Homo sapiens: one gene and its partner. The protein of the gene in region 2 purifies or fractionates together with the protein of the main gene of each other region. This does not show direct contact. Each region holds a gene or a part of one and is shown on either strand. Other genes may lie near its edges.

Region 1 (3,500 bases), on a different chromosome or scaffold from region 2:
TTTATAAGGACAATTCTCACATTTATATTCTTAGCCAGAACCTCAACCCTGAACTCTGGAAGGTATCAGCCAAAGATGTAAAGGTGACCCTTGAACAACATGGGCATTACAGGTTCCAACCCCTAAACAGTCAAAAATCCACATAGAAGTTTTGATTATCCTAAAACTTTACTAACAGCCTACTGTTGAGTAGAAGCCTTACTGATAACATAAACAATTAACACATATTTTGTCTATGTATTATATACTGTATCTGTACAATACAGCAATATAGAGAAAAAATATATCAGGAAAATCATAAAGAGGAGAAAAAATATTTACTATTTATTAAGTGGAAGTAGATCATCATAAAGGTCTTCATCCTTATCGTCTTCACAGTGAGAAGGCTGACGGGGAACACGAAGAGGAGTTGGTCTTACTGTCTCAGAGGTGGAAGAGGGGGAGGAAGTAGAGGAGGAGGCAGGAGAGGCAGGCATACTTGGTGTGACCTTATAAAAACACATCATAATTTCCGTCTGACTCTTTTCCTTTTTAATTTCTCTAAAAATGTTTCTATACAGTACCAATCCTTCTTCCACCATTTCCTTTAGTTTCAGTGCTCATAACATAGAAGGGTCTATGTTGTAAAATAAGTCAAAAGCAGTCTTGAATAATCAGAACCCTTCTGCCAGATTGCCTAAAGTCAATTTGTTTTCTGGCACTACTTCTTCTACATCTTCTTCCTTATCACTTGGCAGTAGTTAGGAAGAACTCATTTCTATCAAATTGTCTTCTGCTAACTCTTCGGTTTAGTGTCTATTAGCGTTCCTTTTTTTTTTTTTTGGAGACAGAGTTTTGCTTTGTTGGCCAGCCTGGAATGTGCAGCGGCACAATCTCGGCTCACTGCAACCTCCACCTCCTGAGAGAAGGTGGAGTGTGGGATTACAGGCGTATGCCAACATACCCAGCCAATTTTTTATGTTTTTGGTAGAGACCGGGGTCTCATCATGTTGGCCAGGCTGATCTCAAACTCCTGACCTCAAGTGATCCATCTGCCTGGGCCTCCCAAAGTGCTGGGATTACAGGTGTGAGCCACCGCGCCCAGCCATGTCTGCTACCTCTTGAATGTCTCCAAGGTCTATATCTTGAAATTACTTCGCTCCCTTATCTTTTTTGCCATACCCACAATCTCCTTCATGATTTCCTTGACTGGCTCTGCTGTCAATCTTAAGTCATGCACAACGTCTGGACACAGTTTTCTCCAGCAGGAATTTGTTTCGGGCTCGATGGCCTTCAGAGCTTTTTCTATAACAATGATGGCATCTTCAATGGTATAATCCTTCCAGACTTTTAGGATGTTCTCTCTACTGGGGTTCTCTTCCATAGCAATGACAATCCTTTCCATAGATTAGTTTATGTAATGAGCCCGTAAAGGCCTGTATGAACTCCTCATCTAGAGGTTGAATTCGAGACATTGTGTTTGGGGGCAAGTATACCAGTTTGACACCTTCAGTATTGAACTTATGGTGTTCTGGGTGGCCAGGGGCATTGCCCAACATTAAAAGAATTTTAAAGGCAGTCCCTTACTAGCAAGATACTTTCTGACTTCAGGCACAAAGCATCAGTGAAACCAATCCAGAAAAGAAGGTTCTCATTGTCTAGGTCTTTTTGTTATACAACTAAGAGACTGGAGTTTATCTTTTCCCTTCAAGGCCCGGGGGTTAGTAGCTTTATAAATAATGGCAGTTCTGATCACAAATCTGATTGTATTTGCACCAAACATTAGAGTTAGCCTTCCTGCCTTAAATCTTAGTGCTCACTTTCCTTCCTTACTAATAAATGTTCTTTGTGGCATTTTTCCCCCCACAGAATAGGGCACTTTAGTCTACATTAAAAACCTGTTCACCAGCCTGGCCAACATGGCAAAACCCCGTCTCTACTAAAAATATAAAAATTAGCTGTGTGTGGTGGTGTATGCCTGTAATCCCAGCTACTCGGGAGGCTGAGGTAGAAAAATCGCTTGAACCCAGGAGGCGGAGGTTGCAGTGAGCTAAGATCGCGCCACTGCACTCCAGCCGGTGAGACAGCTAGACTCCATCTCAAAAAAACAAAACAAACAAACAAACAAAAAACCTGTTCAGGCAGATGTCCTTTCTCCTCAATGATTTTCGTAATGGTGTCTGGGAATCTGCTGTCTCTTGGTCAGCAGAAGCTGATTCTATTGCCATCTTGACCCTTTCTCTTTCTTTTTTTTTTTTTTTTTGAGATGGAGTTTCGCTCTTGATCCCCAGGCTGGAGTGCAATGGCATAATCTTGGCTCACTGCAACCTCCACCTCCCGGGTTCAAGTGATTCTCCTGCTTCAGCCTCCTGAGTAGCTGGGATTACAGGTGCCTGCCACTGTGCCTGGCTAATTTTTTGCATTTTTAGTAGAGACAGGGTTTCAACACGTTGGGCATGCTCTGACCTCAGGTGATCCACCCACCTCGGCCTCCCAAAATGCTGGGATTACAGGTGTGAGCCATCACACCCGGCCATCTTGACATTTTCGAAGCCAAATCTCTTTCTGATATTATCAAACTATCCTCTGCTGGTATTAAACTTTCCAGCTTTAGATCCTTCACCTACCTTTCACTTTAAGTTGTCAGATAATGACTTCACTTTTTCTGGAACCACATTAGAGTCTATAGCTATGCCTTTCTATTGCAATCCTATACCCACATAAAAGCTGCGTTTTCAATACAAGATAAAGTTATTTCACAAAAAGTGCAAGGTTTTCATGCCTGCTGGCATAGCTGCAGTAACAGTGTCTCAAATTTCCTTTTCACAGTGGTCCTTACACTGGATTCATTTATCTTGAAATTGTGAGCAACCGCAACTGCAGACCTCAATCTACAGTACATTATCAGGCAATTCAACTTTTCTCTCTTAATGTCATGACTTTTGTCTGCTTCTTAGGAGTATGTCCAGCATCACTAGTGGCACTTCATATGATTCCCATGGTGTTATTCAAAGTTTACGGCATTGGACTAAACATGATGAAAAATATATGAGAATCACCAGAGATGTCTTTTTACTGGGATAGGCAATTTACTGGAGAGACAAACTGCTCATGAGCATCATACAGTGTTTTAAGCAGATACAACCTCATACAGTGTTTTAAGCAGATACAACACTTAAGCTTACCGAAATAGCAACAGGAGGTGGCTATGAAATTATTACAGTAATACAGTATATACTACAGTTAATTTTATGTAGTGACGATTTAACACTGCATCTTTATGTTTGTTTACATTTCTCTTGACTGCGGATGGTCTGGAAATGTTTGAGTGTGTAAATTTTAGTACATTTCAACTTTTTATAATAGATTTGTGTATATTTTATGGTAGTAAATGATAAAATACGCTAGTATCTACATAGATTTTATGCACTCATGACATACTTTTTCTTAATTTTTCCATATTTCTAGGCTACATGGTTCGTCTGCTAGTTTTTTCAAATTGTTAGAAACTGCCAAAAATT
Region 2 (5,580 bases):
CCATGTGTCAGGTGCTGAGCTAGGTATTTTAGAGGGATTTTATTATTTCATCCTCACTAGCAAGTGACAAAGCCAGGATTTCAACCCAGTAATCTGATGCCAGAACTCCTAATCATCATGTTACCTGCCTACCCATTAATAAAACGTGAGTTTAAAAACCTCATGGTCAATTTCCTGTGCTCAGAATAACCAACAATATTTCTTAACCTTCCACTAATTTTTTATAACATGAAATACTAGCCATGTTTTGACAAGACATTTTCCAGATGAAAAACCTCATAGCTACATATTCTATGAAATAGTTACAGCATATTAAATCTAAATCACAGTTCAAATCTAAATTATTAAATAATTAAATTCCAGTCCTGGGTGTATTTAAGTATCTGTTGTACTTACTTACACAGAACATATGCTATGCATACAGTAATAACAACAAATACTTATTGATTAGCTATTTAGTTACAGCAGATAAAGAATCAAATTATAAAATACAAAGGTTTTCTGTAGTCCAAATATTTATTTTGTCAGCAACTATAAGCTTTCTCTAGAAGTTGAAAAAGCCTATCTGGATTATGGGAAATTCAAATATTTGTTTTCTTGCTGAGATTTTAAGGCAAATAAGGTAGAGGCAAGAAGATGACTTTAAAGTATTAAAACAACAACAAAGATGACCAACAGTATAATGGGTAGCTACCCTACCATATTCTCTTTAACCATATCCCCTTGCTGCCTTCTACAAAAGAAAGGCTTCCTCCAACTATAAAGATGCCTAATCTTTCATCACTTGCCATTATTTAAAATCACTTAAGATTTATATTAAGTTAAAAAACTTTTACATTGAGATCACATATTTTCAGTGGGCCTTTCCAGTCATTTAATGAAGAAATTATTTTAAACATAAAAATATGCTTGAAACAGCTCATTACAGAATCCACATCACTATAATCTTATGCTTGGCCTCAGGAATGTTATACAATGGTTTGAGTTCAAAGTAAAGAAAACTGAATTAAAACATGTAGTAGATTTTGTGGGGTTTTGTGTGTGTGTGTGCATGTGTGTGTTTTTAAAGGTACAATTGCTTAACCAGATATTCCTGTTTCTCTGACTGGAATATAAATAAAACCAGAACACAATCCAGAAAAGCTTGCTTTACCACAAGCAGATCAAATCGGTATTGGGCTACAAGGAACACAGAACAAGAATCTCTTAATACATGTTCTATTTTAGATAATAAAGTGTATACTGTATTGTCTTCTCATGAAATTTTGCTCTAACAACATCTCCACTTTTAGAAAATGCCATATTCCCTTATCTGATTTATTGCTTCTCTGGGAGATGCTGTTCTGTGGAGTTAGAATTATTAAAAAATAACAATAACAAAAAAACAAACAACCTTGTTTGCTGGAAATAAAAAGTGAAAAAAAAACCTCATTTCTTTAGTTTATTAGTAAATAACTGCTAAAAGGGCAAGGAGCAGATGAGTGCTATATGAATAAAAGATTTTTAATTATACATCAATTCTATCATTCCCTCAACAATACATTTCATAATTTAAAAGGTTTACAGTGAATACGTGGGTCATTAACTTGGAATATTCTAAAAACAACCCAATAGTAAAGATAATTACATGGCCAGTAATATTCCAGCTGAATGAAACACTCTTAATGGAAACCAACACTTGTTATGTATTTAAATTAGATTTAAAATTAAATTAATTTCCAGCTACCTAGAAAATCTTTTTAAAAAGTCAGTAATTCAAATGGAAACTTTACATTAATTTAAAAAGTAATACCATCAATTTGGATCTAGTTCATCCTTATTGTTAACAAGCACTGAGGGAGAAAAATGGGTCATCAGCTAAAAGCCTGAACAATCCCAAAATGGGTGACTGAACTGTAAATAATTAAGATATATATTTTCTAAGCAAACCTAAACACATATTTTATAAAGCACATATATTCATTCCTCTTAGTTCAGTTTCTACTACTGCACTGTCTTGTAAACAGAAAAGACTTAAATTATGTGTAATATATCAAACCTTTACACTCTAATGTATTGCATCATATACAAAATGATTATTATATCTTACCAACTCATTAAAGCTAATGTCCCATAGTACTTTATTTATCAATACTTTCTATTTAGATTTAATTGCATTACTTGATAGCAATGAATCTACACAGTTTCAATTTTCTGTGTATACTTTTCAATGATTTTGATTGTCCTCCAATTTAGAAATCACTGACACTCTGTTGAATGACATCAAGTATGGATGACTTCTATAAGATGTCAACTTAAGAAACCTTTACTAGCACCAAAAACTTGAGATGGGAATCTGTGACGATACACACACCAAACCTCCAAGGATTTCTCTAATATAGTGATGAAGAGTTAAAACAGGGAAGGGCAAACCTATCAGACCTATTAAACATGAAACAACAATTTGACTTTCGGGGAGACACGACATCTAACTGAAAGCACAAAGAATAGAGCTAAATGTAGGCAGTTATGTGCAAGGCACACAATCTGGATCCCACATTTGGCAAATGAGGTATGTATCAAAGATTTAATTCATCAATTCATTAGGTAGGACTCTACCCTACAGAGAAAATTGGACAAATATGCAAAGATGTATAAGTATGATAATGACCATATTTGATAATAAAATAATAATAGTAAAATAGGAAATGACCTAAATGTTCTTTAATAAAAAACTGGTACAATATTTTACACAAATAATCGAATATTACATATATGTAAGTTTTCATTGACATAGAATGAGCTCCATAATATACTGCTGAGGGGAAAAAGCAGATTAAAAACAACATGAATATTATAGTTACAGGCATGGAGAGAGACAGCTGCAAAAATTATCACCAAAAGCAAATGGAGGTTTCCTCTGGGTGGTTGGGGAGGAAAGTAATTTTTACTTTCTTCCTTAGAATTACTAATATTGCTTTAATTTTCTAAATAAATATACATTATCTTCGTGATCAGAAAAAAATTATCTTCATGTTGGAAAAAGAAAGCACATTTATTTTTTAATACCATAATTCTTTTTGGGAGTAATTACTCTGTGAACCTAATTAGAAAAATTCAAGAAGCTATAGATTCAAAGATTTTATCACAGCAGTGTTTATTATCACAAAATACTGGCAATAATCTAAATGATCAATAGTGAATTTGTTAAATAAGTTATAAAGTATATAATGGCATACTACAAAGTCATTAATATTAAGATAAAGATACAGTCATCACTGTAAGTTCAGTGACCTTGGGAATGTTACATACCCTCTAGGTGTCAGTTTCCTCATCTGTAAAATGGGTATAAAAAGAGCACTTACCTCACAGTGCTTTACCTAGCATATCAGCTTTATCTTATTGTGATACAAGACGAAAAATCTGATGTTTGTGAGCTTTCTTGATAACACAGGCCGCTGCTGCAAAAATTACCTTGCTATCTGCTTCTAAAAATTTCAAGAGGAACATTCAATTTGGCCATCAATCAAGTTCAGAAAATATGAATATAAGACCACAAGGGCAATAAATATCAAAGTTGAAAATAGGAAATTTCTGCAGCTATTAACCTAGTTTTTAAAAATTCCTATACTGGCTGGGCTCGGTGGCACACACCTGTAGTCCCAGCCACTTGGGAGGCTGAAGCAGGAAGATCGTTTAGGCCCAAGCATTAGAGGACAGCCTGGGCAAGAGAGTGAGAACCTGTCTTTTTTAAAAACAATAAACAAACCGCCTATATACAATCACAAAATAAGCTTGTTTATTCATCTACACATGTGCAAAAAATAGTGCTAGAAGATAAAACCAGGGCTACCTAGACACCTGTGGCACTGGACAGTCCCCATTAAGAAGCTGCCCAGATTACAGTGACTGATAGAAGTGGTATCCCTACTTAATTGAACAACAAAACAATTTACATATACACACTAGTTTGCTTCATCTGTTTTACTATCATTGTACAAACATTTATTTTGTTGCTTTAAGTAACTGAAACCAACCTGCCATGGTCTTTCCCAATCCAGTGGAATAGGAAGTGCTCCAAGCCATGCTCCTACAAAGCTAGAAATTGTAGTGATCTGGAGACTATTCTCCCATATGGATGTAACTCTGTGAAACACAAATTGGTACATCGTTGGTGGTATATACATGAGCTGCTGGAGAATCCAACAAGCACTAGCACACATTATCAGTATACATATATTTCCTGCTAATTTAAAATGAAAATCTCAAAATGACATATACATATTTACCATGAACTATTAATAGTTAATTGGTAAGAAGATGTAAATGTTTTCCATTGGAAAGGTAATATACAGACGCACTAGGAGTCAAACCATGTTAAAGAGCATTTGTAGAAACAGCTAAGTCTTCCACCCCTATCATCAACTCCTGGTTCCTTTCCCCACAGGCAACTGCTATTATGCTAAATTATTACATATTCTTCCAGAAATATTTTATACAGGCACAAATACACACATAATTTTGTTTTGAAGGATATATGTACATTTGCATAAATACACATGTACATATGTATATTTCTTCAAAACAAAACTCAGATGCATCATGTTATAAACCAAGTTTTGCTTGTTTTTCCTTGTTAACAGCTGTAACAGTATTCCATTGTATGGATGGTGCATCATTTATTCAACCAGTCTTTCTTTTTTTTTTTTTTTTTCAGACGGAGTCTCACTCTGTGTCCAGGCTGGAGTGCAATGGAGCGATCTCGGCTCACTGCAACCTCAGCCTCCCGGGTTCAAGCGATTCTCCTGCCTCAGACTCCTGAGTAGCTGGGATTACAGGTGTGTGCCACCATGCCCAGCTAATTTTTGTACTTTTAGTAGAGATGGGGTTTCACTGTGTTGGCCAGGCTGGTCTCGAACTCCTAACCTTGTGATCCACCCACCTTGGCCTCCCAAAGTGTTGGGATTATAGGCATGAGCCACTGCACCCGGCCTCAACTAGTCTTTCTTACAGCACACTTCATTTATATAAACCAATTCAATTTACTTGGCAAGAAACAGGCAGAGAACAAGAACAAAGTATTTCAAAAGATCTGGTGATTCTGCCTACCGTTCCTATTTACTAAGTGCACATCTGAGAGTGTAAAGGTGGAAAGACTTAATTCTGCCATTCTCTTAGTAGGTGTTAGTTTCAGCCTGGCCCTCATAGGGTGAACACTTCATCATGTAGAACAGGAGTCTGGTTACAGTCAGGTAAAAGCCCACTGCAATGCACTAAGTGGGGTCCAAATATTCAATTGTTTAAATTGCAAGGTGAAGTTATTGAAAAGTAGCCTCTTCTAGATAGTATGGGGGAAAACATTTGTTTTGTTAGATGATTTATTTAACTAGAAACAGGCCAATTATTACACGCAAAATGTACACTGAATTTTAAAAGTCCCAAATGATGACAAGTCAGTTCACAAACCAATCCCTCTATCATCCTCCATCTCATACTCCCCAACTACACAAGATAAGAGCCTTAGCTTGTTTCCATTGAGAAGCAGGGCTAAGAACGGGCTGGAGCCAATCACATATATCCAAATTTGTACTATTTGTAGGG

Evidence for each region. The genes of interacting proteins can lie anywhere in the genome.
Region 1: the proteins of PIGF (region 2) and WDHD1 purify together in Homo sapiens (affinity purification with mass spectrometry; one large-scale study listed by BioGRID and IntAct). This does not show direct contact.

The regions. Positions count from the first base shown.
Region 1 is NC_000014.9:55,020,600-55,024,099, forward strand, and holds part of WDHD1 (WD repeat and HMG-box DNA-binding protein 1), read right to left. Parts: intron 1-3,500. UniProt on the Homo sapiens protein: Core replisome component that acts as a replication initiation factor. Binds directly to the CMG complex and functions as a hub to recruit additional proteins to the replication fork.
Region 2 is NC_000002.12:46,588,459-46,594,038, forward strand, and holds part of PIGF (GPI ethanolamine phosphate transferase, stabilizing subunit), read right to left. Parts: exon of another isoform or gene 4,900-5,580; intron 4,126-4,899; coding exon 4,017-4,125; intron 3,468-4,016; coding exon of another isoform or gene 3,450-3,467; exon of another isoform or gene 2,689-3,449; intron 1-2,688.